4 linked regions of the Homo sapiens genome follow. The protein of the gene in region 3 purifies or fractionates together with the protein of the main gene of each other region. This does not show direct contact. Each region holds a gene or a part of one and is shown on either strand. Other genes may lie near its edges.

Region 1 (3,492 bases), on a different chromosome or scaffold from region 3:
CGGGATAGGGGTAGTTGAGAGCAGAATCACCTAGCGTTTCTCACCTGTACCATAAAGATTGGTCATTGCTGACATGGAACTGACATACCTGTCCCCCTCTCCTCAGCTAAGAACGTGGCTGCAGACATTGCCGTCCAGCTCTGTGAATCTGTTGCCAACAAGTTGGAAGGGAAGGTGATGGGGACGTTCAGCAGTAAGTACTTACCTAAGTGAGAAAGTGCTTATGTGTAGGTTAAGTGCATAGACCTCAGTTCTTACTAGGTATGTGACTTTCGGCAAATTCCTTAACCTCTAAACCTCTGTAACCTAGATTTTAAGGGTTATTGAGAGGATTCAGTGAGTTAGTCCTTGTAATGTGCGTCTGTTCTGGATTTCTGGGACAAGAGTCTAATTTACTGTTTTAGTCCCCTTAGCTCAGAAAGGTGTTAGGCATTTTTGAGAGCATTCCTTGAGTTTCACAGCTGCAACCTCCTCCACCTCCCCTTTCAGCGGTGACTTCCACAGTAAAGCAAGCCCTACAGGAGTCCCTGGTGCAGATTCTGCAGCCACAGCGTCGTGTAGACATGCTCCGGGACATCATGGATGCCCAGCGTCGCCAGCGCCCTTATGTCGTCACCTTCTGCGGCGTTAATGGAGTGGGGAAATCTACTAATCTTGCCAAGGTCAGTGCAGTTCCCCAGCCTATCGCTGATATTTCTGTACTTCTTGTGTCTCAAAATCCTGGCTTTAGGTGACTTTTCTTACGTCTTTTTCACAGATTTCCTTCTGGTTGTTAGAGAATGGCTTCAGTGTCCTCATTGCTGCCTGTGATACATTTCGTGCTGGGGCCGTGGAGCAGCTGCGTACACACACCCGGCGTTTGAGTGCCCTACACCCTCCAGAGAAGCATGGTGGCCGCACCATGGTGCAGTTGTTTGAAAAGGGCTATGGCAAGGATGCTGCTGGCATTGCCATGGAAGCCATTGCTTTTGGTACAGTGCATGGGAAGTGTGGGGGCTTATTTGGGGTCCCTTTTTCTCCTTGGGTTCTCTTGGAATTTGCAGAAGATCAGGCTTGTGCTACTACAGACTCGTTGGTCAATTACAGTAAAAAGTCAGATCAGTTACTTGCCATGCTCTGCTTTTGGATAACAGATGTAGTTGCAGGCAAAGCTAATATACCTTAACCAGAGAAACCTGAATTTGGTCACCTTCATCCTGTTGTCCTCCTTTTCCTGAATATGTTTGGTGATGGCCAAGCATATAATCAAGTTTTTCTCACATTACCTTGGAACCAAATCCAGAGCCCAAGACAGTGAACAGGTAGTCAAACTAGGACTTTTTGAGAGGAAGCTGGGAACGAGCATGAGTGGTAGTCCAGGTGTTCAGAGTTGACTACTTTCTTTCTCTAGCACGTAACCAAGGCTTTGACGTGGTGCTGGTGGACACGGCAGGCCGCATGCAAGACAATGCCCCTCTGATGACTGCCCTGGCCAAACTCATTACTGTCAATACACCTGATTTGGTGCTGTTTGTAGGAGAAGCCTTAGTAGGCAATGAAGCCGTGGACCAGCTGGTGAGAGCGTGGGCCCAGTTCCCTTTACAACTTGAGCTTTGGTCAATTTAGATGGTTCTTACACTTCTATCACTTTTTCTTTCCAGGTCAAGTTCAACAGAGCCTTGGCTGACCATTCTATGGCTCAGACACCTCGGCTCATTGATGGCATTGTTCTTACCAAATTTGATACCATTGATGACAAGGTAAACGTGAGACTGGAGGCTGGAATGGGCGTCCTGCACAAAGGAGCTGAGGCTGCAAGGAAATCTTGGCTCCAGCGCTTCCTGTTCCTGAGAGGGTGAGTGAAAAGTGGGCTTGTGTTGATGGGCTGTCCTCTTTCTCCACTTAGGTGGGAGCTGCTATTTCTATGACGTACATCACAAGCAAACCCATCGTCTTTGTGGGCACCGGCCAGACCTACTGTGACCTACGCAGCCTCAATGCCAAGGCTGTGGTGGCTGCCCTCATGAAGGCTTAACGTGGCTCTTGCCCAATACCAAATCGCCGCTTTCCCCACAAGCCCTTCTTCCTGTATCAAGAATGTGCTTTAGAGTATGTGAGCAACCTGTCTTCAGTGTAGTACAAAGGCAGAGTGAGGGGGCTTGTGGCTCCTTCCAACCCCACTCCCCGTTCAGCACAGCCGCCATCTGCAAGGAAGGCCTAATCATGTTACAATCACTGCCCACTGACCCTCTCCCAGCGGGCCTCCCCCTTCCTACTCAGGCACCCCCTTCACTCTGCCTACAGACTCAGTCTTATTACAGCTTTGACCAATGGTTGGAACCCAACACCAGAGCTTTGCTAATAATTAGTGTGGTCAAGAGCCGTCTGAGCCTAATGAGTCCCAGCTGCATTAGGTTAAGAGACTCTTCCAGAGCCAGCGCCAGGTCTTGAATGGCACCTCTCCCTAGGATACACAGCCTGCAGGTCCCCAGGACCTGGATGACACCCGCCTCACTGTGGCAGTGTATTGCCTGTTAATTGCTGCTAATTCTAATTCTGATGATGACTCCTACTCCATTGTTTACCCCAAAGCATCAGCTAGGCTGGAGTGATTTGTTACAAATGAGCAAAAGATGAGTCCTTGCTTCCCTCAGAAATAAAAGGAGCTCAGCTGCAGCGTTGCATTGGGCTTCTTGGCCTCCCAACTCTTCCCACTCCCAGAATCCAGAAGTAAGCTCTGCATGTTCCCCTTCCTGGGAGGAAACCAATTGTCAGAAGGATGTATGATGACCCCCTCCCCTCCCATCCTTCACCTCCTAAGCAGTCCTGGCTTTTCCTCATCACTCCCCTCTACAGTGCCTGGTAGACAAGTGCTACATTGAAGAACACAAACCTCTTGTTAAGACTTGTCCTGTAGCTTGATATTACAGATGTGCTATTAGTGCAATAAGGTGAAGGCTGTCTGCCCAGAGAAATAAGTAATTTATATAAGAAAATAAATTTCATAAATAAATTGCCTTTTAGGTCTTGGAGTTCTTTTATACAGGATTCAAAACTAAAATTCCACAACACACTTAACTGTAGTTCTAGGACATATGTATGGTCAGGACAACAGAGCAGAAGTTGATAATGCTCCGAGGAATCAGGTAAGTAAACGGTTGTCCTGAGAATGAGATCACTCCACCCCAAGGAGAAAGATCGGAACCTTTAAACTTTGGGTTATTAAAATTAAGCTTATTAGTACCTTGATGCAAGTTAGAGTTTCTTACAATGACTCTAAAAGTAGAGCCAGGGTCCTGGCAAGTAAATGAACAAGCTTTTAATACAGCTTAGTTATGTAAAATACTGTACACTGTAAAAGATCTAGAAAACTAGAGCTTCAAGTCATGTTTTAAAAAAGCCATTAAGCTTAATTGAAAAACCAAGTATAGAGTACAAAACTGCAACAAGAGCCACAGTGATTCCATGGCATCCAGACCCCGAGTCCTTCATGCAGAGCTGCAGCCGGTCAGT
Region 2 (7,034 bases), on a different chromosome or scaffold from region 3:
ATTTTATAGGTAAGGAAACAAAAGCCCAGAAAAGTTAAGCAACCTGCTCAAAGTCACACAGTTTGAAAGTGGCAGAGCCAGGATTCAAACACAGGCTGTCTGGTTGCAGAGTCTGGCTCTTAGGCATTATACTATGCCACTTGATCGTACCATTTCCCCCTCTGAGCTTACTACCGATTTCACTAATTATGACATATCCTGATTAAGCTGACTAATTTTTCATGTTTAATAGCAACCCAGCCTGCTTCTAAGCTCTCTAAGCACAAAGACTTAATCTATGGCTTCTCTCAAGCTACCCTCTCAGTGCATTATATAATAGTAGCTGTTGCTGACAGATAACTTGACTGATCTGCTTACTATCTTCCACAAATGCTTCTATTTGTTGGCATTAACAATTTCACATCTGTTTCACAAATGTGCAGAAAAGGGTTCATGTAGTAGGCCTGAGGCTGCTATCCTTAGAAAGGCCTGCTTGCAAGGTTAACCCTTGCCTGGCATCTGAGAAGTTGGACTTTGGCAGAGTTCATGCCATCCTAATTGATAAAAACAGCTCGCCGTGCCTGAACTGTTTTGCAAAACATGCGGTTTGAATGCAGTTCAGTGCTGAGCACCTGCTTTCCTCCTGGGAGTCTAGAGTTTCGGTAGATGCCAGGTGTGAGGTGCCTATGTGACCAGCCCCTAACAGAATCCTTGGGCAATGAGTTACTAATGAGCTTCCCTGGTAGACAACACTTCACGTGTTGTCATAGGTCACATGCTGTGTGACTCCACTGGGAGAGTACTCTTAGAAGCTCATGCCTGGTTTCCTCTGGACTTTTGTCCCACATGCCTTTTCCTTTGCTGTTTTGCTTCGTATCCTTTCAGTGTGACAAATCATAGCCAGGAGCAGGACTGTATGTTGAGTCCCATGAGACCTCTTAGTGAATCCTAGAACCAGAGAGTAGTGCTGGGGACCCCTGACACAGTAAGAATTTAAAAAATGTGGGCCAGACATGGTGGCTCACGCCTGTAGTCCAGCACTTTGGGAGGCAGGGGGATTGCCTGAGCCCAGGAGTTTGACAGCAGCCTGGGCAACATAGTGACATCCCACCCTTATAAAATAAAATTAAAAAATAGGCAGACATGGTAGCACATGCCTGTAATCCCAGCTACTCGGAAGGCTAAAGTGGGAGGATTGTTTGAGCCCAGGAGGTCGTGCCACTGCACTCCATCCTGGGAGACAGGGTGAGACCCTGTCTCAAAAACAAAAAAAACAAAAAAAAACAAAAAAGAAAATGTGTCCCCAAACAGTTATGTGATGTTATCTTCTGAAAGAACATCCTAAAACCTTTCTAAAGCTAGTCTAGAAATGGTCCAGGTTTGGATACTTGCTCACTGATGTATTCCATCTCCAAGACTGGCTGAGTTGCAGCGGGAACGACTGTGAGGACACAGCTCTTGCATTCCAGATGCTCATGTGAGCCCAGAGGGGAAACCAGGCAGGCGCCATGGAAAATACAGGAGCCTGGCCCTCCTGCTTCCTGTGGCCTTGGATGAGTCATTTACCCTGCTGGAGCGTCAGCGTCCTTACCTGCTGACAGGGCTCCTAATAGTGCCTGCATGGGACAGGTAGTGGGGTTGGAGGGAGGTGTGCACTCAGAGCATGTGGCATCGAGCAAGTCTGTCACAGGTGACCTGAGGACAGCCTTGTGGTGGCCTGCTTGTTGTGCCCTCGCTCTTCTCTCAGGAATACACTTTCAGGGACGACAAGAAGGGGTATGGGGGTCAAAGAGATTGAGGTAAAATGGCTCAAGATGTGCCAGCCTCATCGGGTTAAGAGACAAAATGGGCAAGAGCACAGATTTTGGACCAACAGCCTAGGCTCAAACCCCAGCTATGCTACCTGTGGGACTGTGGGATCTAGGGTGAGTGGCCAAGCCTCCTGAGCCTCAACTTCCTCATTTGTAAAATGAGGGAGGAAACAGTACCTGCCTCATGGGGGTTTGTTGTGGGCCAATAAAGTGGCTGGCATGCTGCCTGGCACACAGTGAGTGCCCGGTAGCGCCAGCTATGGCATTTTGCGAAGAAGTTCAAACACGGTACATTGCATAGGGTAAGTGCTCTACAAACTTTAACTGCTATTATTAGTAGTACTATTATTAATTAAGAAACACCAATGAAAGCAATACTTACAATCTTTTCTTATCCACCACTCTTTTAACTCGGATGGCTCTCTGTTCTGAGTAAAGTTTACATACTCCTGTTGCAGAAGAAAATACCAGAAGAGAGACTGCTTAAAACAGCTTCTCAGGCAAAGCCATCATTAAATATAATGAGATACTACAGTCTTCAGCTAGCAAAGCTAAATTCTGCATCACATCTATTGTGAAATGTTACATTTGACCTTTAAAAGAAAATGAAATACTTTTCAAGTAATCTTCAATGAAATCCAAAACAGCGGTCCTGTGCTCCTTCACTTGCTGGGAATGTATCTCCTTGTGAGCTGTAACAGAAAAAGACAATGTTCAGGCCTTCGCACTCAATTATCCTAAAGAGCAATTCATCAGCTTCCTCACAACACTTTCTTTATTGAGAGTATTTTTTAAAACACAGCTATAAAACAAGTCTTGTGCCAAGTGACACTACATTTTTAAAACAGTAAGATGTATCAGGCTTCGCAAGAGTGAAAGATTAAACCTGTAGAAAATCTATAGTCAAATAATTTATGGTTTATCAGAACACTTAAGGATAGTATTTGACGCAGCCACTTCTTGAGTGCTGACCCCATCTGTGTTAACAGCATCCAATGCTCAAGCTGACCTTCAGCGAACATGTTTAAACAACTGAAATCACACACTCCTCCCTGCTTGAACCTGTGCTGCTTTTCAGCCTGTAGTGCCCCATCCTCTCCCCTTGGCCACTCACATTCTAAGGGTCCCTTAGACAATGAGTCAAACTTTCTGTCTCCAGGAAACCTATGACTCCTAGCCACAAAGATGCCTTTCTCCTGGGAACTACCACACAGAAGTGTGCTAAAAGGCCTTACCAGACCTAAAGTCTGTGCCACTGGTTTTGGTAAGATAGTGACCACTGACTGAGAGACTGAGTGCCTACTGCGTGCAGGTACTCTGCTAGCACTTTACATATGTACTGCTAGTAATTACAATAGCAATTCCGAGTTTCCTGATTTTTACACGTGAAGAAACTAAGGTTCAGAGGCAATAAATAGCCCAAGGTTAGATGGTTTCATATGTAAATGTAGGTTTTGTTAAATATTCCTGTGCATTTTTTAGGTCTCTCAATGAATGTATATGCCCTTAAGGGTAGAGGGCATGATTTCTGCCTTACTATAGGGCTGCTTAACCCAAGATTTGTGTGGGGGACTCAGGAGCTCTGTGAAATTGCATATAGAATTTTGTGTATGTACATTTTTCTGGCAAGAATGCCTATTGCTTCCATCAGAGTCTCCAAGTGGTCCGTCAGCATTCTAATAAAAACCTCCCCAACAAAAGTCTGTGTTGTGAGCACAACAGCATCTGGCAGCTTTGAACTCTACTTACTATTTAATGTACTCTGTAAATGCCTAAGCAAATTAAAAAAGAATCAAGAAAGAGGCGTGACTTGGGAAGCCATCTCATTGTCTCAGTGAGAATTAAACATCAACGAAAGTGAGATAATAAGCGCTCTTGTGCCAGACACAGTTCTAAGCATGCTGTAGGAATTTAACTTAATGCTCATAACAACCCTAGAGATACATTCCCTAATTGTCTGCATTTCATAGACAAAAAAACAAGGCCCAGGGAGATTAAGTGATTTGCAGAGGGCTATATGGCTCGGACGGGTGGAGTTGGGGTGCAACCTAAGCAGCCCTGGCTCCAGAGCCTTCCTCCTAACCTTGAAGGTTTGATAGGAAAGTTTACTTGAATATTACAAGTAGAGCTTAAGTACCCCAGGCTGCTGTCAACTCCCATCCCACTAAATGCCACACAGAACAGAGGCACACATGTGCATACACACATACACACCCACACACATACAATTTGCCACACAGAACACACACACACGCACACACACACACACACACACACACACAAATTTGTCTTCACTGCCCCTGGCCCCTAGATATATTTTTGGTTCTGTTTGGAGAGGTCCTTTCCATCTCCCTCCTCTCATTGGTTTAACTTGAATGATACAGCCTTTGCAGTACTTTTAACAGCTTTGGTTAAAACATTGATCAAGAAAGAAAAGATTTTAACGTTTTAAAACCTAAATCGAAATAAGAAGAGGGAATTTTAACTGGCCGCACCATATGCATCTTGTTTAACTACTTGCTATATTCATGGTTGCTTGTTTGCATCTTTCAGAGCACTTTACCTTCTGTTCGTAGTTGCTGAATTGCTTCTGAACAGGTCCTCATGAATATCTGGGCATCCTGGTCTATCTGGTCTCGTTCTGTGTCTGTCATCCTCCCATATTCAGACATGGTATGGCTAAAAAAAGACAGCAAAGGAAAGGGCAGCAGCAAATGAGAACATAATATAGTCTGAGTGGGATGGGAAGAGAAGAAAAGGCCTCCCTGATCAGGTGACATTTAAGCTGAGACTTGAAGGGTGAGGAGGAACAGGCCAGGTGAAAAGGTGAGAGAACCATCTAGATAGATAGTAGAACACATATGAAGGGTGTGTGGTAGAAAATCCTCCGGAATAGACCCAACTGACGTAAGCCAGATGGGGAGAGGGAGAGGGAGAAGGAGCGTGGAGTCAGGGCTACAGCATAAGCCAGGCTTATAAAGAATGTAGGCTCTGCTTTTGAGAACAATGGCGCAGCTACTGAAGGGTCTCACACTACAAAATGACTGAATCAGAGGGTGGAGGGTGTTCCCTAAACATTCCAGGCACACTCCCACCTCAGGACCTTTACATGTGTTGGTTGTCTCCTCCTTCTGGAATGTTCTTTCCCCAGATAGCTGCATCAATGCATCCCTTACTTCTTTTAGGTGTTTACTCCATGTTGCCCTCTTAATGAGGCCTTCCCTAATCCTTCTTTATAAACTGTCCCCTCCCTGACATTTTCTATCCCACTTCCCTTCTTCCTTCCCCGTAAAGATACTTACCCCACTCTAACATTCCATATATTTTGTGTAATTATTTCTTTTCTTGCCTGTCTCTCCCCTCTAAAAACGTAAGTTCCACAAAGGCAAGGACTTCTGTTTGTTCACTGCTGTATCCCCATCATCAAGAGCAATGCCTAGCATTTTTAATAGGCTGATCAATTAATAAATCAGTAATAAATACTTTTGAATGAACTGAACCAATGAATGAGCCTGAGTTGGAGAATATGCTTGATACACAGCTACGACTGTGCTCCCTAGTAAGTTCCTCCTAAACCGATTTTTCCCCCCACCCCAAGACAGGTAGGCATCCCCCTCCCAAAGCCTTCTCTAGGAAACTTAAGGCACAAACAAACAGGGAATACATCCATCCTGAGGACAGGCCCTTCTAAAAAAGAAAGGGGTAAGATGAGCACGAAGTCCTTCTCACTCCCAATCACCAGATAAGCATCCTCTCCTCCCTTGGAGTCACCCCTATCCCACGGCCCCTACCCCACTTCCATATTTTCTAAGGAAGAGTTGGAAAAAGAAATCCCACAGCCTCCAGCCTCCTAGGGAATAGATGATCCTCTCTCAGTGGAACTTGAAGAGTGACATGGAATTAGTTCCTTATTCCAATGCTCCTTAGGATCTTGTTCTATTAGTTACTTAGGCTTGGGATGGCAACCATGAGAGAATGGACTCTGTCCGAGGGAAGACCCAACAGTGAGACAAAGGCGCTAAGCCAGCAAGCTCGATCCCCTCTCCCCAACCCCAGCCCACCTCCAACACCAGATGAATGGCTCCCCTCTGGGGAGGAGCCAGAGTGGCAAGCAGAGGGGCCAAAGCCTTAGGTTCATCCCTACTAGGAACCTTCTCATCGGAAATAGAGGCTAACGGGGTCAGGGACAAATGAGTCAGAAAGGTACCAACTCAGTGAATATGTACCCTGCAGACAGAACAGACCTAGAAATGACTAGTTCCAAGAACATTCGATTAACATCCTCCTACTCTATATTTTGATTTAATGGAAACTCAGCTCAGTGAAATTGAAAAGGTCTAAAGGTTAATTTGATAAAACTGATTATTTAATTAAAAGGTAATGTTCCTTTAGGAAACATTATATATATACATTAACCTTCTAAATTGAAAATTGACAGTATGGTTATTCTATTAGTAAGAACAACAGAAACCAAGGAAGTTTTTTCTCCCAGATTGTTTTGTTGCCAGGATATTGTGGAAAAAGTCCATCTACCAGAAGTGGAGACATTATTTTTAATTAAAATCATTCAGAGATCTAGCCACAGGCTATCTAGGTTACATGCTGTTCTGCTCTAGTAAAATGTCATTATTAAAAAAAAATTAAATGGGTCAATAAAGTCTGAGCTCTACATTCTGGAAAAAATTACAGCTTCCTAATTATGTCAAACTAACAAAGCCTCATAGGTCTGAAGGCAGTATTTCTACACATATTCTTTCAATTCCATGATCATACTCCACATAAAATGTTCCTAGGAGCAGGCCAAGGCTAGCACATTGCACTGGGAGGGCAGAAGAGTAAAAAAGAAAGGCTTTAAGCAGTCTACCACCTTTGGGAGGGAGAACTTGATGAGAGACAATAAGGGTGGTCTTTCTCCACCTGGACAGAACCTGGGCTACCGGGGGGAATGCTTATTCCCTAATCCTCATGTTTCTGTGGGAACCAACTTCCCCAAATGACACCTTGCCTCCTCCCAGAGCCTCCTCCCTCTGGCCCCCTCGCAGAAAGCATGGGGTGTGCATATAGTCACCACACCTTTCTCTCCTCTCTTTTACCTACTTAGAGACAGCAGAGGTTCCGCTCTGTTCCTCTCTCTCCTATGTTGCAAAGGGGCCTGTCCCTGCTGTCTGTGCTCCAGGGGCTGCGGCTGCGCAGTGGCACTAATGCCTGAGTGTGTCTAATTCAAGAGCAGAGTATCAACAAGGC
Region 3 (7,034 bases):
TAATAACAACTGTAAATAATGGAAATAATTCTTAGTAGCAGCAATCCCCAAAAAACTCAATTATTATTGCAAGAAAACATGATGGCACCTTGCTTATTGCAGGCTATTAAGAATGATGGTGTATTCTTCAGACCCATACTGTCAATGAGGACTTGATACAGAAACTCAGCCACATCTTTCACCTCTCGCTGGAATGCTGCACTATCCACAACAAACACAATAGCCCTGGAGGGAGAAAACAAGAAAAACTGGCATGTGAACGTGTAACAGGACATCATTATCTTGAAAAACTATCCTGAACTTCTTCAAAGTCAATCTTGGTGATTAACACTCAGCAGACACACATGCAGGTCTGTGCATATGTTATCATATAACATAAATCCTCATTTAACAAGGAACTATTGAGTGCTACTGTGTATCAATGACTGAAGCTGAAAAAAGACAGTAAGAAATGATGCCTGTCCTCCAAGACAAATCATCATATAGAGAACCATATGATAAATGCCAAGACAAAACTATGCACATGTGTAACAGGAATAAAGAGAAAGATCATTTAAATGAGACCAGGTCAAAGGCAACTTTAAGGAGAATGTAACAGTTGAGTTGAATCTTAGCTAGACCAAAAATTGGGGCACAGGCTGTCTGGAAAGTACAGGTTGAGTATCCCCAATCCAAAAATCCAAAGTCTAAAATCCAAAACACTTCTGGTTCCAAGCATTTTGGATAAGGGATACTCAGCCTACAGTATGTTCAAGCCACAAATACGTGAAACACATTCCCTGGGGAAGTCAAGGTAAGCTGGTACACAGGGAGATGGGGAAATGAAGGAGAACCAAGTCAGACAGTGAGGCGTGACACAATGACCTGTGGAGTTCATGCTTTTCTGTCTTATGAAGAATATTGGTGCCTAAATGGAAGACAAAGCAATCTTAGAGGGCGCTTGAACTAGAAGCACAGTGACCAGGTAGGGCCTGAACTAAGGCAGCCATAGTGGGACTCCTCATGTGACAGAAACAAAGAGATATCAAAGCTAAAGTGCAGCAGCCCAGGGAAACTGCAGACAACAGGTCTTAGGGGGCCGGGTGCGGTGGCTCACGCCTGTAATCCCAGCACTTTGGGGGGCCGAGACAGGCAGATCACTTGAGGTCAGGAGTTCGAGACAAGTCTGGGCAACATGATGAAACCCAATCTCTACTAAAAATATAACAATTAGCCAGATATGGTGGCGGGAGCCTGTAATCCCAGCTACTTGAGAGTCTGAGGCAGAAGAGTTACTTGAACCCAGAAGGCGAAGGTTGCAGTGAACTGAGATCATGCCACTGCACTCCAGCCTGGGTGACAAAGCGAAACTCCATCTCAAAGAAAACAAAAAAACAAAAAAACCGGCCAGGCGCGGTGGCTCACGCCTGTAATCCCAGCACTTTGGGAAGCCGAGGCGGGCGGATCACGAGGTCAGGAGATCGAGACCATCCTGGCTAACACGGCGAAACCCTGTCTCTCCTAAAAATACAAAAAATTAGCTTGGTGTGATGGCGGGTGCCTGTTGTCCCAGCTACTCAGGGGACTGAGGCAGGAGAATGGCGTAAACCTGGGAGGCAGAGCTTGCAGCGAGCCAAGATCGCGCCACTGCACTCCAGCCTGGGCAACAGAGCGAGACTCCGTCTCAAAAAAAAAAAAAAAAATACAAGCCTTATGGACAAGGGTTTGAATGCCCAGGTGGAGATAAGAGACATGCAATGGCCAACATGCAGCTGGGGAGCTAGAACTGAATGCCCTGCACAAAGCCTACAACTTAAAATAGTCTCAGGGAGGTCGGGGCTTGCAAAAAAAGTTCCCTTAGAAACAGCGGGCCTCCACTGCCTCACACAGATATAGGGTATGAATTTATACTCTCTCCAGGTGTAAGACCCCCAAGGGGAAAGGCTTACATAAAAATTGGGCCAGACTTATTGAAGCCCTATGGCCCCAACAGAAGGAACTATGAACCGCTTATGGAGCAAGGCTTTCATATCCTACGGGATTAAAGAACCACCACAATATCAATGATGTGTCACTCTTGAAGAAAGGTTCTGGAGCAAAAATTACAAGGCACAGAATAAAATAATTATGAGGGAGAATAACTGGTACCCCAAAGAGAATAATCAGCACCCCAAAACTAAGATAATAAAGCTATCTATAAAGTAAATGTTTAAAATTATTTAAGAAAATACTACAAACTACAATAAAAAATAGAATAGTATAAAAAGAAACAGGCTGGTTTGAAAAGGTAAGTATTTTAGACAAATATAGTAAATGATATTAATAAATCAATGGAAAAGTTAAGCAGAGATCATGCTCAGCTGAAAATAATGTAATAAACTAGAAAACAAATCTGAGGGAATCTTACAATATGCGAAGTAGAAAGATCTGGAAGATACGATAGAGAGGAAACAAGAAAGGCAAAAATAATAAGGTTCAATAACATTCATAAGAATTCCAGAGTGTGAGAAATGATCATGGGGAAACAGCACTACCTGGAGAAACGATGGTGAGAATTTTCCAAAACTGAGGAGAATCTTTGGTTTGGAATAGCACAACTGAATTCCAAGAATGATAAAGCTAAATCCATCCTTGAACAGAAGAAAATCTATCCCTGGATAGAAGGTCAAATCAGGCAGACTTACTACAGTGAAATGACAATTAGACTGACTGGCAAAAACATTCTCATCTGCAACAGATGGATGAGGTCAGGAGTGATGCGGCTGCCACCCAGGACTCTGCACTCAGCTAAAAGAGACATTCCAAAATGCTGGCCAAATAGAGTTACAAATGAACAAAGACTGAAAACATTTGACTACTCATCACCCTCTCTGGAAACACTTCTAAAAGATATACTCAGTGAGGGAAAACTGAATCTAAAGGGAAGAAGTAAAATTCAAGAAGCAATGGGGAGCAAAAGACCATAAGCATCCTGGTAATTCTCATCACTGAATGTAAGAGGAAAAAAAAGTATGGATGGGGGTTAAAAAGGAGCATAAATAAAAGGAAGATGTGAGGAAGATGAAAGTTAAAGTGTTTAAGGTTCAGGAAAAGGAAACTGATATTATTGGATTCAGACAATCAAATAGGCAATGTTTAAAAGATGGGGGAGGGGAACCATGATAAGAACAGCAACAGCATATGTTCAAATCAGGAGAGGGAAAATAGCCACTAGGGAAACTTGGCGAAGCCAGAAAGTAGGATTAAAAAAAAGTCACATACCAATATAGTAAATGTCTTTTCAACTTGCATGTTATCATGATTATAATTTATTTGAACTAAGTTTTATCTTCATATTTTGCATGTTTTATTTACCCAAAATACATGAATCACAGAGTAGTTATACTGCAAATCATAAAATATTTAGAACTGGCAATAGAAAAAGAAAAAACATTTAATTGGAAATAAAAACCCAATTATGGCAAAATTTACCAGCTCTAGATTTGTCTCAATTGTCCAAGGAATTTTCTTATCTGTGACAAATTGTTCATCACCACCATCTTGTGGGCAAAGATGCAATAATGAAATTTCAGTCTAGACATCTTCAATAAAAGGCAAAGAATCTACTACTTCATTCCATCAAAACTAAAATGCTGCCAATTAAAGACATTATTTTAGGGACCGCTAAGAGAAAATACTGCCAATTAAACTATGACACCATCAACTATAAGATATATTCTAAATTCAGAGATATTAAAATGTGTCTTCAAATCAGTGAAATGTGGCATACTGATTTTCCTCTTCAGTTCTTATTAATGTTAGAGACCAAAAAAGAAGCATCTGAAACTGCAGCATAAGACTTTTTAGGGAAGAACTTAAGAGTCAGTAACACCAGAGCACACACTAAAAGAAATATGGAAATATTGTTCTGTACTTCTTGAAACATCAATTTTACGTAATTTGAGAATATATATGGGCCAGGTGCAGTGGCTCACGCCTGTAATTCCAGCACTTTGGGAGGCTGAGGCCAGCGGATCATGAGGTCAGGAGTTCGAGACAAGCCTGGCCAACATGGTGAAACCCCATCTCTACTAAAATTATGAAAAATTAGCAGGGTGTGGTGGTGCGTGCCTGTAATCCCAGCTACTCAGGAGGCTGAGGCAGGAGAATCACTTGAACCCAGGAGGTGGAGGTTGCAGTGAGCCGAGATCACACCACTGCACTCCAGCCAGGACAACAGAGTGAGACTCCATCTCAAAAAAAAAAAACAAAAAAACACTATATATATAAATGATGTTGGCATTTAAAAACTGCTAGGATTCATCCCAGCTTTAAAATTCTTTTTTCAGATTTTAATAGTCATATACATTATTAAATTCACCTTCAGAATAAATGCAAACATTTAGTAACAATGACAAGAAGGGTTAACATTTCCTAAACACTAAAAAACACTTTTTAAGCATTTTAATCCCATAAAATCCTCATCATCCAGGTGAAGGTGGACTTGCAACCCAGAACTGGCTGACCCCAAGGTCACCTCAAGGTCTACCACAGGATACCATGCTGCCTCCCAAACACCACCAGAGCAAATCACATGAGTGGCTTTGATATACAGATACAGACCTAGACAAGCCCACTTCACTTCTTTCCTTCTTACCTGGCTGAAGACTTAAACCGCTCTAAGAACTGAAGCCTCAAACTCTCATGGCCGGGAAGGTCAATCAAGGTCAGACTATTGCCCTGGGGATGGCAGCAATAACATTAACGTTTCAATACAGTTCCACGTTCACAATATAAACCTTTAGTATCATATATTGGCTACCAAACTGGTACCTAATTAACCAAACAAATGTTCACAAAGCATCTTCTACTCATAAAACACTAGTCAACGTTCTGGGGATGTAACAGTGGCCAAAGACACGGTTCCTGATCTGGCAAAATTTATGAGAAAGGTGAACATAATGTAAAATTACACATAAATATAAAATGAGAACACTGATAAATGTTTTGAGGGTACAGGAAAAACCTGTCTGGGGGAGTCAGGGAAGCATGATCTACCTGAGGCTTGGGAGATAAACCAGTGTGAGTATAGCAAAGTAGGAGTACTGTATGAGTATAAGCAAAAATGTGAAAACAGTAACAAGTACTCATAAACTAATAATGTAATATAAGAACTTACAATTTTTCATAGAGCATATTACTCTTACTGGGATCTCCAATCTTTATAACAAAGTACACTTTTATCATTTCCACCCTTAATCTAATTATTTAAATATTTATCTTCCAGACATATAATTTACTTGTTCCAACTCCGTCAGCATTTGTGTCAATTCCTGAGCCCCTACTGAGCAAATCTACGATGCACCCTAATAAGTTCTATTCACCATGCCAGGCTGCCATTCCTGAATATAAGGTCAAGGCCTGGAATGGTGAATAAAGTTTATATTCAGTGTAAACGTGGCTGTGCTCAACAATAAGACTCTTAGATGTGGCCTGGTACATGCAGCAGACCATCATTTCTTACATGTTCTACATTATCCACAGCCAACCATACCCACAGTTCAGAAGCAGGCAATCAGTATCCTGCACAGATTTAACACAATTCCAGCTGGGTTTATTATGACCTTACCTTTCACATAGCCTGTGCATTTCTTTATAGACAAATATGTTTTTTATTAGTCCCTCTCTTTTTTTTTTAAGTACTGTTAAGAGTCTGGAGATCCCAGGTTGGGACTTAACTGCTCCATTTCAAAAGCAGCACTATACCACACACCCTAAGCAATTTGGAAGATACATTACTAGGTATATTACTATCTAAAGAGATTAGATCGAAAACGTAAGGGGGTAGGAGAAAGAGTGAAGAGGGAAGGGAAAAATGCTCTATATATTCAGTAGAAATATTGATAGAATAGAAATATAGTAGAAATATAGAATAACAGAAGCCACATATGTAATTTTAAATATTCCAGTAACCATAATAAAAAAGTAAAAAGAAATTGGTAAAATTAATTTTAAGTTATTTAATCTAATATATCCAAAATATTATCTTTTAAAATGTAATAAAAAAAGAAATTATTAATGATACTTTACGTTCTTTTTTTCCATACTAAGTCTTCAAGATCTGGTGTGTACTTCACACTTACAGCATGCCTCAATTTGGACTAGTCCTAGTTTAGGTGCTCAACAGTCACATGTGGCCAGTGGCTACATATTAGAAGGTACAGATTTAAAGCATATCCTGGAGTATCCTAAGTTAAAAATCTAGTGCAGGTACTAGATGATCTTGCAAACCTGGAATTTCAAAATCTGAATCCTTGGGAGTTTAAAAAGGTCTGGGCCACAAAGAGTGTCATCATTGAAAAAAAAAACAAAGATATCGCTAAGATATTTAAAAACATGTCCCTTTATTTTTCTTTACAATCTTTAATTCTGGAGGCATGAGAAAGGGGAAAGAAGACAAAGAGAAGAAGAAAAGGTCTCAAACCACAATTCTAATTCATCCATCTATCCATCCACATCCTCCAACGAGCCCTCACTCCACTCACTCACCGAAACTTATTACATGGCTGGGTGCAGTGGCTCACGCCTGTAATCCCAGCAATTTGGGAAGCTGAGGTGGGCGGATCACTTGAGGTCAGGAGTTCAAGACCAGCCTGGCCAACATGGTGAAACCCCATCTCTACTAAAAATACAAAAATTAGCCAGGCATGGTGGTGGGCGCCTGTAATCCCAGCTACTCAGGAGGCTGAGGCAGGAGAATCGCTTCAACTCGGGAGGCAGAGGTTGCAGTGAGCCAAGATCATGCCACTGCACTCCAGCCTGGGCAACAGAGTGAGACTCCTGTCTCAAAAACAAACAAACAAACTTATGCATTACAATCGGTTTGGTAGTCACTGTCTACATTCTGAAGTTACAGAGGTATGTAAAATGTCTTTCCCATGATTCCTTATATTTTTTTTTTTTTTTTGAGACTTAGTCTCGCTCTATTGCCCAGGCTGGAGTGCAGTGGCGCAATCTTGGCTCACTGCCACCTCCACCTCCCGGGTTAAAATGATTCTCATGCCTCAGCCTCCCGA
Region 4 (7,034 bases), on a different chromosome or scaffold from region 3:
GCCAGGCTGCTATACTGCCCATTGAAGCGGTAGTGATAGGCATAGAAGGCGAAGTGGTAGAGATAGAAGAACCTGCGGGGCGGGGTGAGGGCGTCGGGGCTGCAGGTCCCACCCTGCCAGGCCCAGCCCCTGGGGTTCCCGCGTGGCGCAGCCACCACCCCCGCCTCCAGCGCCCCTCCCTCTGGCAGCCCCCTACCCCTGCCCACCAGCACCCACTCCACCCTGCCCCCGCGCCACGCTCACCGCAGCCAATGCCGCTTGCTGGTGCTGGTGTGGCAGCAGATGGCGTCATACTGGTCCGCGAGCCACACGATGAGGATGATGTAGAAGGCGGTGGTGGTGTCGTTGAAGAACTCCGACATGATGGCCTCCATCCCTGCAGGGAGAGGCGGCGCCGGTTGAAGCGGGCGGGGCGGGGTGCAGCGCGGGGCGGGGGAGGCCGGGTGGGGTCCTCACCGACGAGGGCCAGGATGACGGTCAGCAGGGGCGCTGCGGGGAAGGCGATGGCCATGTTCATCTCCAGCATCTGCAGCAGGTCCACTGCGGGCACAGGGCGGCGGGCGCCCGGTGAGGGCCTGGAGGACGCCCGCCCCGCCCTGCGCCGGCGGGACACTCACCGATGAAGACGAAGATCTGGTGGTGTGAGTACCGCAGCAGCATGGACACGCTCAGCGTCTGCAAGGGGCGCGCAGGAAGCGCTATGAGGGGCTGCGAGGGCCTGCTTGGCTCCCGCCCGGCCAGCCCCCGCACCCGCCCCGAGGCACTCACGAAGATGACCATGATGGCGAAGGCGGCCAGGTAGGACGTCCGCGCCATCCACATGCTCACAAAGCGGTAGTGCTCGCCCGACACCACATTCCGCAGGAAGCCTGCAGCAGAAGGAGCCGTGAGCGCCCGCCCCCACCCGCGCCCTCGCACCCTCGGCCCCGGGGCATGCCTCACCCTTGTTCTCCTCGTTCTCGGCCAGGCCCTTCACGCTGGACATGAGGATGTCATCGTAGCCCAGGAACTCATCCAGCAGCAGGCGGCTGAAGCGGTCCCCGAAGCACTGGTCCCGCGTGGGGTCTGCGGGTGGGTGAATCAGGGAGCCGGGAGCCCCGCCCAGGCCACCCCCTGGGCCCTGCCCCAGCTGGCTCCATTGCTGAGGCCTGGCCTGCTTCCTGGCCCTGCCCATTCTTAGGAAACCCATCCAGGACCCCAGCCCTGGGAAGCGTGCCTGGGGCGGGGCAGACCCCAGTGCTTCCTGCACAGCCCCCCGTCCCGCACCAGCAGGAGGAGACCCGAGGGAGGAGGGGAGGCCCCGCCATGGAGCTCCCCAAGCCCAGCAGCTCAGACTCACCCAGGGTGACCACCATGACGGGGATGCTCAGGCGCTGGCGGGTGGCCTGCGACAGGCGAAGGAAGCCATACTCTAGTGAGTACTCCACGATGTACTCGTCCTGCGGCCACACTGCAGGGCAGAACCAGGGACCAGGTCAGCGCCCCCACACACGTCCCCCGCCCACTGCCAGCAGGCAAGGCAGGCGTTGAGGGGTGGAGGGTGAGACCTGCTGAGCCCTGGGCCCCAGGTGGGTGCTGGGAGGACCCCTACATGGACACTTGGGATGGTGCCCACTCAAGCTGGTGTCCTGCCCTGTGCACTGCAGAGGCTGGCCAGGCTCCTCCTCCCGTGGCCCCCTCTCCCTGGCTGGGGCTGGCTGGGTGCAGGGCTGCCCCACTGCCCTGGCGGCCCCCAGCACACCCCCAACACTTCAGAGGCCCCGGCCCTCTGGATAGACCCTCTGCTGCCAGATGGGCAGGGGTGGGGGCGGGGGCGGGGGCTTCCCTGAGCACAGCCCGCTAGAACTCTGAGCTCAGAGCCGAAGGGATCCATCCCCTCCAAGTCGCCGTTCACGAGGATCCCAGAAAGGATGAGCTGAGCCAGTTACCCCAGGCTCTGGGGTGTCCCCACAGCCTCCTGTGCTGACAGATGGGGAAATCGAGGCACGGGGGTGCCCTCAACGGTCCAGGACATGCAGCCAGCAGGCTGGGGATGTTCGGAGGGACCCCGCCTGCACCCCAGCACCCCATGACTGAGGCAACCCCGTGAGGCAGTACACCTTTGGTGGGTGGCCTACCTTTGGTGGGCGTCTCGGGGAAGGGGAACTCCTGGCTGTCATTCAGGGCCTCTGTGCTACTCGGCGGCTTGAACACCTTGGGCTCGATGTCCAGCTCAAACTGTGGGCGACCAGGGACCTGGGTGTCAGCAGCGCCAGCCCGGGCTGTGAGGGCCCAGCCTGAGGATACAGTCCTGCTAATGGGAAGGGACTGGAAGCCTCAGCCTCTGCCCCACCACTGACCAGGCCAGGGTGGACTACGTGTGCCTCCCGCCTCAGCTGGGACCCCACCTCAACACCAAGCCTGCCCTGCTGTGAGGCCATCTCCAGCACAGCTCTGAATCCTGAAGCTGAGGCAAGGGCCAGCTACAGGCAGTAGACCCCATGGAAGGGTCCATGATGCTCTGCCCAAACACTCAAACTCTTGGGGTTGGCTCTGTGGGAACAGGTGGGACCCCAAACCCTGACTGCTGAAGCAAAAACATCTCCCACCAGGCTGTGGGGCCCAACACAGCCACCTGGTCCCACCAGTGCCCAAGGCCACCACAAGCTGACCGGGAACCCAGCACCTCTGCAGGCAGTGGGGCCACCTCAGGACGGCCAGGATGGGCCCAGAGCTCTTAGCTTTCAGCCCCCAGGCCTCCTCAGCTATTGCTGCCCACTGCATCCCCAGCCCCAGCCAATCCCCTCCCCGGAACAGCTACTCTCAAAGGCCCGAGTCTGCCCAGCCCAAGTCCTCCCCGAGATCCCCCTGCCCTGCCCAGGCCTCTAGCAGGGCGACAGGCCGAGGGTCTTGCTTCAGAGCCCCCAGGCCACCAAAAGGCCACGGCAGGCAGGGGCGGCCTTGTCTGCATGCCAGGTCCCTGAAAGTCAAGAACCCCAACATCCTGTCGATGTCAGGAACCGCCCCTTCAGCGACCAGCATCTACGGGGCGCTGGCCTCTGCTGCAGCTGAGCCCAGGCCTGGCTCACCTTGATGGAGCTGTTCCCAAACATCTCCATGGTCAGCTCTTCCTCCTCCTCATCTTCCATGTCCAGGTTGCTGCCTGGTTCCACGGCCAGGCCCGGGAAGCTCCCGCGGCCGCCGCTGTCACAGAACTGTAGGAAGACGGGCGCGCGGCTCGAGTTGTGCCGCACTTCCACACGCAGGATGCCCTCACGCGGCCACTTGTCACGCACATGCTCCAGGCAGTTGATGGGCGAGCGGGAGAAGACGATGTGGATGTAGGCCAGGACGAAGAGCACAAACAGGGCCTAGGGGGCGGCCGGCAGTCAGTGGGGCGCCCCAGGGCCAGCTGCAGCCGACACCCAAGGGCCTACGTGATGGGGCGTGATGGGGCGCGCTGGGACGCCCAGGACGGGGAAAGGAAGGAAACCCCAGAAGCCGAATTGGGCTCTGAGGACCCTGGGTCCCTCCCACGCTGACTGCACCGGGCCAGCCCCTCACATAGTCCAAGTGACTGAGGATCCGGGGGACGCCCCACTCCAACCCCGGAGGGGCTCTGCCACCTGCAGCCCGGCTCTGACAGGCCCTGGGGCTTCGGCAAGGCCTGTGACTGCCCCGCACCTCCTCAGGGGTGAGCCGGACGAAGCCAGCAGGCCGGGGCCCTCTCAGATGCACACAGGACCCCCCAAACCTGGGAGGAGACGAGGCTGGACTCAGACCCACCAAGTGGAGCACACCAGGGCCCTCTGCCAGCCAACGGCTCCCGCCCTGCAAGCAGCAGCATGGGTGTTGCCGCCACCCCAGGGCCACCAGCTGGACCCACTGTCTACGAAAGAGGGCACAGCCCTCCACAGCCCAACCTGCTGCTTCCTGCCTCACCTTCCGCTGCGTCCCCAGCACTCCCCTGATCTCACCACCTGAAAATAGCTTCTCTCACCTGGCGGGGCGCCCTGTGCAACCCTCCCAGGCCTGGCGGGGCCAGCCGCAGCTGCTGGGGACACAGTGGACCTCCGTGGCTGGGCAGAGCGCCCCACGGCAGGGCGAGGCTGCCGTGCCCGAGGCACAACCTATGAACTGGGGTGCCAGCAGCTCTCACCTGGGGGCTCCTGCCCAGGGGATGCTTGGGACATCTGTGGTTGTCACAATTGGGGGAGCTCCTGGCATGGAGTGGGTGAGGCCAGGGATGCTGCTCGGCACCCCGCAGTGCCCAGGACGGCCCCACCCCGACGTCCACAGGGCTTGGGGAGCCCACGCCCCAGCGTGCTGCAGGCACAACTCAGAGTGGGGCCCCTCTAGGGGCAGTTCAGGGCAGCCCCTCTTCCAGGGAGCCCGCCTCACCGTCTGGCGGTTTGGCTGCCCACTGTACCTCCCAACCTGAGGTCCAGGCATCACCCCCGAGCCTGGTGAGGGTCACGTCTACCTGCTGCCCCGATCCGCAAAACTGAGGACCCAGCTGGGCCAAGGGGGCGCCCACGGCCACATGGAACCCCAGACTCTCAGGGAAGAATTGATCAGACTCAAAATCACAAGCCAGAGAGCCTGGAGCACAGGGCCCCTCCGTGACCCGTGACCTGCTGGCAGGTGCACCAATGCCCGGGGTGCAGTGAGCCACCTGTGGCCGCACAGCCATAGGCAAGACCACCAGGAGCCTCAACTCTTCCACGCCCACAGTGAGCTGGGGCCTCCTCTCCAGAACCCTCTGTAGACTGAGCAAAGGGCCGAGTCAGCAAAGCAACCCACTTCCAGCCCGGCCGCAGTGCTGTGACCTGTGGGAGGCCCTGAGTCTGAGCACGGATAAAGCCCTGGGTCTAGCCGCACGTGCACCTGGGGCGAGCCCCATCACACTCCCCAGCCCCAGGAGCTGGAGAATCCCTTGGGCTGATCTGAACTGCATTTCTAGTCCTTACAGCCAAAAGAGCCGCAGGGGATGAAGGCTGGCCCGGCGCTGAGATTTAAGCAGAAACAGGCAAGAGCAGAACCCTGACCGCCAGGCATTCAGGCCCCGCCCACAGACGCCGGAGCTACAAATGAGGGGTGGGCGGGGGGAGGGGGCAGGGCCCTCTGCTGGGGAGGGTTCCCCTGTGTCCTGGGGAAGACAGGGAGGGCAGTGTGGAAGGGGGGCAGCCCCGGAGCCTGAGATGCTTTCAAAGCCTAGCGTTTCCCCATATGGCATCTGGGGACAGGAGCCACGGAGGCTGGGCCCAGTGGTGGGTCACGGTCAGAGACACTGACCCCACAGCCCCTCGGCTCAGCACTCTCAGGAGAGAGGGGCCCGCGAGGCCCATGGTGGATGCTGCTGGTGGCCACGCTCTGCCTTCCAGGCCCACACATCCAGCAGGAGCTGTGCCCAGGACAGCAATGGACCCTGTGCCAAGATGTTCCAAAAAGTGCTGATACACAGTGGGCCGAGGTCGGGGCTGTCCAACGCTTCACAAGGGACGCACGGCTGTTACCATCCCTGGTTTATATACGAGGAACTGACACAGAGGTCCCGACAGACCTGGACCTGCTGAGGTCACATGGCCAGGAGGGAGGGGCCAGGGCAGTGCCAGTCTGCACAATTAAGGCCCCACGGGGAAGAGCAGCTCCTGGGGTTGCCCTGGGCAGGGTCAGCTTGGTCCAGGGTCAGCGGGAGAGGGCACAGGACACACATCCTGCCACACCCAGCACTGGTGTGAGTGACCCGTCCCATGAAGACAGCGGACGTGATGAGAGGGCACCAGTGTTTTCACACAATGTGCACACACTCCAGTCAAAGACTTCAAGTCCACCAGACGCTATGACTCAGACGTCACTGTGTCTCTGCCCCATCAGGTGCTCCGTGCTGACCGAGCTCAGGGCCCCTCTTCCCTGACTGAGCATGACCAGAAAAATGCCCCACTGGACAAGGCCCGTTGCCGCCAAAGCCTCAGCTCCCCTTCAGTCTCCCACCACAAAACAAGGAGCAGGCACCACCCAGCCAGACGCAGGCTCATCCCGAGTCCCGGGTCCTCCTCCCCAAGACCTGTCTGTCATCAGCCACCCTGCAGCAGCCACCTCACCAGGCCCGGCCCTGAGCCACACGCCCAGGCAGCCTCGTCCACGCCCACAGTAACCCTCCCCAGGGAGCTCACCTGCAAATGCTCCCATGGGCCCCTGGCCACCCTCTGCCCGCAACCTGGCTCAGCCACTCGCATGCCCTGGGTGGTCCAGTCCCCTACACTCCATGACCCTGTCCCTGACCCAGGCTCCCCAGCAGGCACCCACATGCTCCAGCCCCACGGCCTTCCCACACGCTCTCCAGCTGCCTGGACACCCCACCCCATCCCACTGGCTGTGGCTCACCTCCAGGAGGCCCTGCCCACCCAGCACAGGAGTCACCCCACCCCTATGACCCTTCCTTCCTCCGGGTCAGCCCACACACGGCTGCACCCACAGGAGCACCTCCCCCAGCCTGGGGCCGTGCTCACCGCCTCCTCCAGGAAGCTTCCTGGATGTTCTGGCCGAGGCTCTCAGGGCACCCCAACACTCGGCCACTGGGTGGGCCTTTCCTTTCCTGTCTCCCCACAGACCTGGAGTGCCAGGAGCAGCCTGCCCGCTCTCTGGGTATTTGACTGACCCACAGACCGACGGACACACAAGCCCGCGGAGCCACACTCTCCTCCCAGGTGGGACACAGAGCCCTCAGCCCCAGCCAGGAAACACTACCTGGGGCTCCCCTTTGTCCACCCGGGGTGCTTCCTGCCTCCAGGCCACCGGGGCCTCTCCTTCCACTGCAGCCTCACAGTGGCCTCAATGTGACAGGTCCCCCATTCAGAGCAGGGCCCCTGGGGTCTCACATACCCCGTCTTTAATCGTCACGACCCCACAAGAGGAGCCCCATTACTCCCTGTGGCTAGGCGCGGGCCCCTGCCCATGTCCAGGGGTGCTGAGTCGAGACCCCTTCACCCTGTGGGCATCCACTTGGTGGTCACCTGGGTCCAGAGCCCAACCGCACAGGTGCAGGCACCCAG

What was found.
Region 1: the proteins of SRPRB (region 3) and SRPRA purify together in Homo sapiens (affinity purification with mass spectrometry; 8 studies listed by BioGRID and IntAct, with this or other methods). This does not show direct contact.
Region 2: the proteins of SRPRB (region 3) and STX18 purify together in Homo sapiens (affinity purification with mass spectrometry; 5 studies listed by BioGRID and IntAct, with this or other methods). This does not show direct contact.
Region 4: the proteins of SRPRB (region 3) and TMEM259 purify together in Homo sapiens (affinity purification with mass spectrometry; 4 studies listed by BioGRID and IntAct, with this or other methods). This does not show direct contact.

What each region holds. Positions count from the first base shown.
Region 1 is NC_000011.10:126,262,438-126,265,929, reverse strand, and holds the end of SRPRA (signal recognition particle receptor subunit alpha), read left to right. Parts: intron 1-106; coding exon 107-193; intron 194-489; coding exon 490-662; intron 663-757; coding exon 758-971; intron 972-1,390; coding exon 1,391-1,554; intron 1,555-1,640; coding exon 1,641-1,739; coding exon of another isoform or gene 1,740-1,834; intron 1,835-1,885; coding exon 1,886-2,014; 3' UTR 2,015-2,992; downstream 2,993-3,492. UniProt on the Homo sapiens protein: Component of the signal recognition particle (SRP) complex receptor (SR). Ensures, in conjunction with the SRP complex, the correct targeting of the nascent secretory proteins to the endoplasmic reticulum membrane system.
Region 2 is NC_000004.12:4,455,019-4,462,052, forward strand, and holds part of STX18 (syntaxin-18), read right to left. Parts: intron 6,955-7,034; exon of another isoform or gene 6,888-6,954; intron 4,470-6,887; coding exon 4,354-4,469; intron 2,483-4,353; coding exon 2,405-2,482; intron 2,240-2,404; coding exon 2,173-2,239; intron 1-2,172. UniProt on the Homo sapiens protein: Syntaxin that may be involved in targeting and fusion of Golgi-derived retrograde transport vesicles with the ER.
Region 3 is NC_000003.12:133,808,781-133,815,814, reverse strand, and holds part of SRPRB (signal recognition particle receptor subunit beta), read right to left. Parts: intron 4,699-7,034; coding exon 4,616-4,698; intron 226-4,615; coding exon 89-225; intron 1-88. UniProt on the Homo sapiens protein: Component of the signal recognition particle (SRP) complex receptor (SR). Ensures, in conjunction with the SRP complex, the correct targeting of the nascent secretory proteins to the endoplasmic reticulum membrane system.
Region 4 is NC_000019.10:1,011,124-1,018,157, forward strand, and holds part of TMEM259 (membralin), read right to left. Parts: intron 3,351-7,034; coding exon 3,069-3,350; intron 2,236-3,068; coding exon of another isoform or gene 2,218-2,235; coding exon 2,118-2,217; intron 1,451-2,117; coding exon 1,340-1,450; intron 1,066-1,339; coding exon 943-1,065; intron 870-942; coding exon 769-869; intron 676-768; coding exon 618-675; intron 541-617; coding exon 457-540; intron 377-456; coding exon 244-376; intron 73-243; coding exon 1-72. UniProt on the Homo sapiens protein: May have a role in the ERAD pathway required for clearance of misfolded proteins in the endoplasmic reticulum (ER). Promotes survival of motor neurons, probably by protecting against ER stress.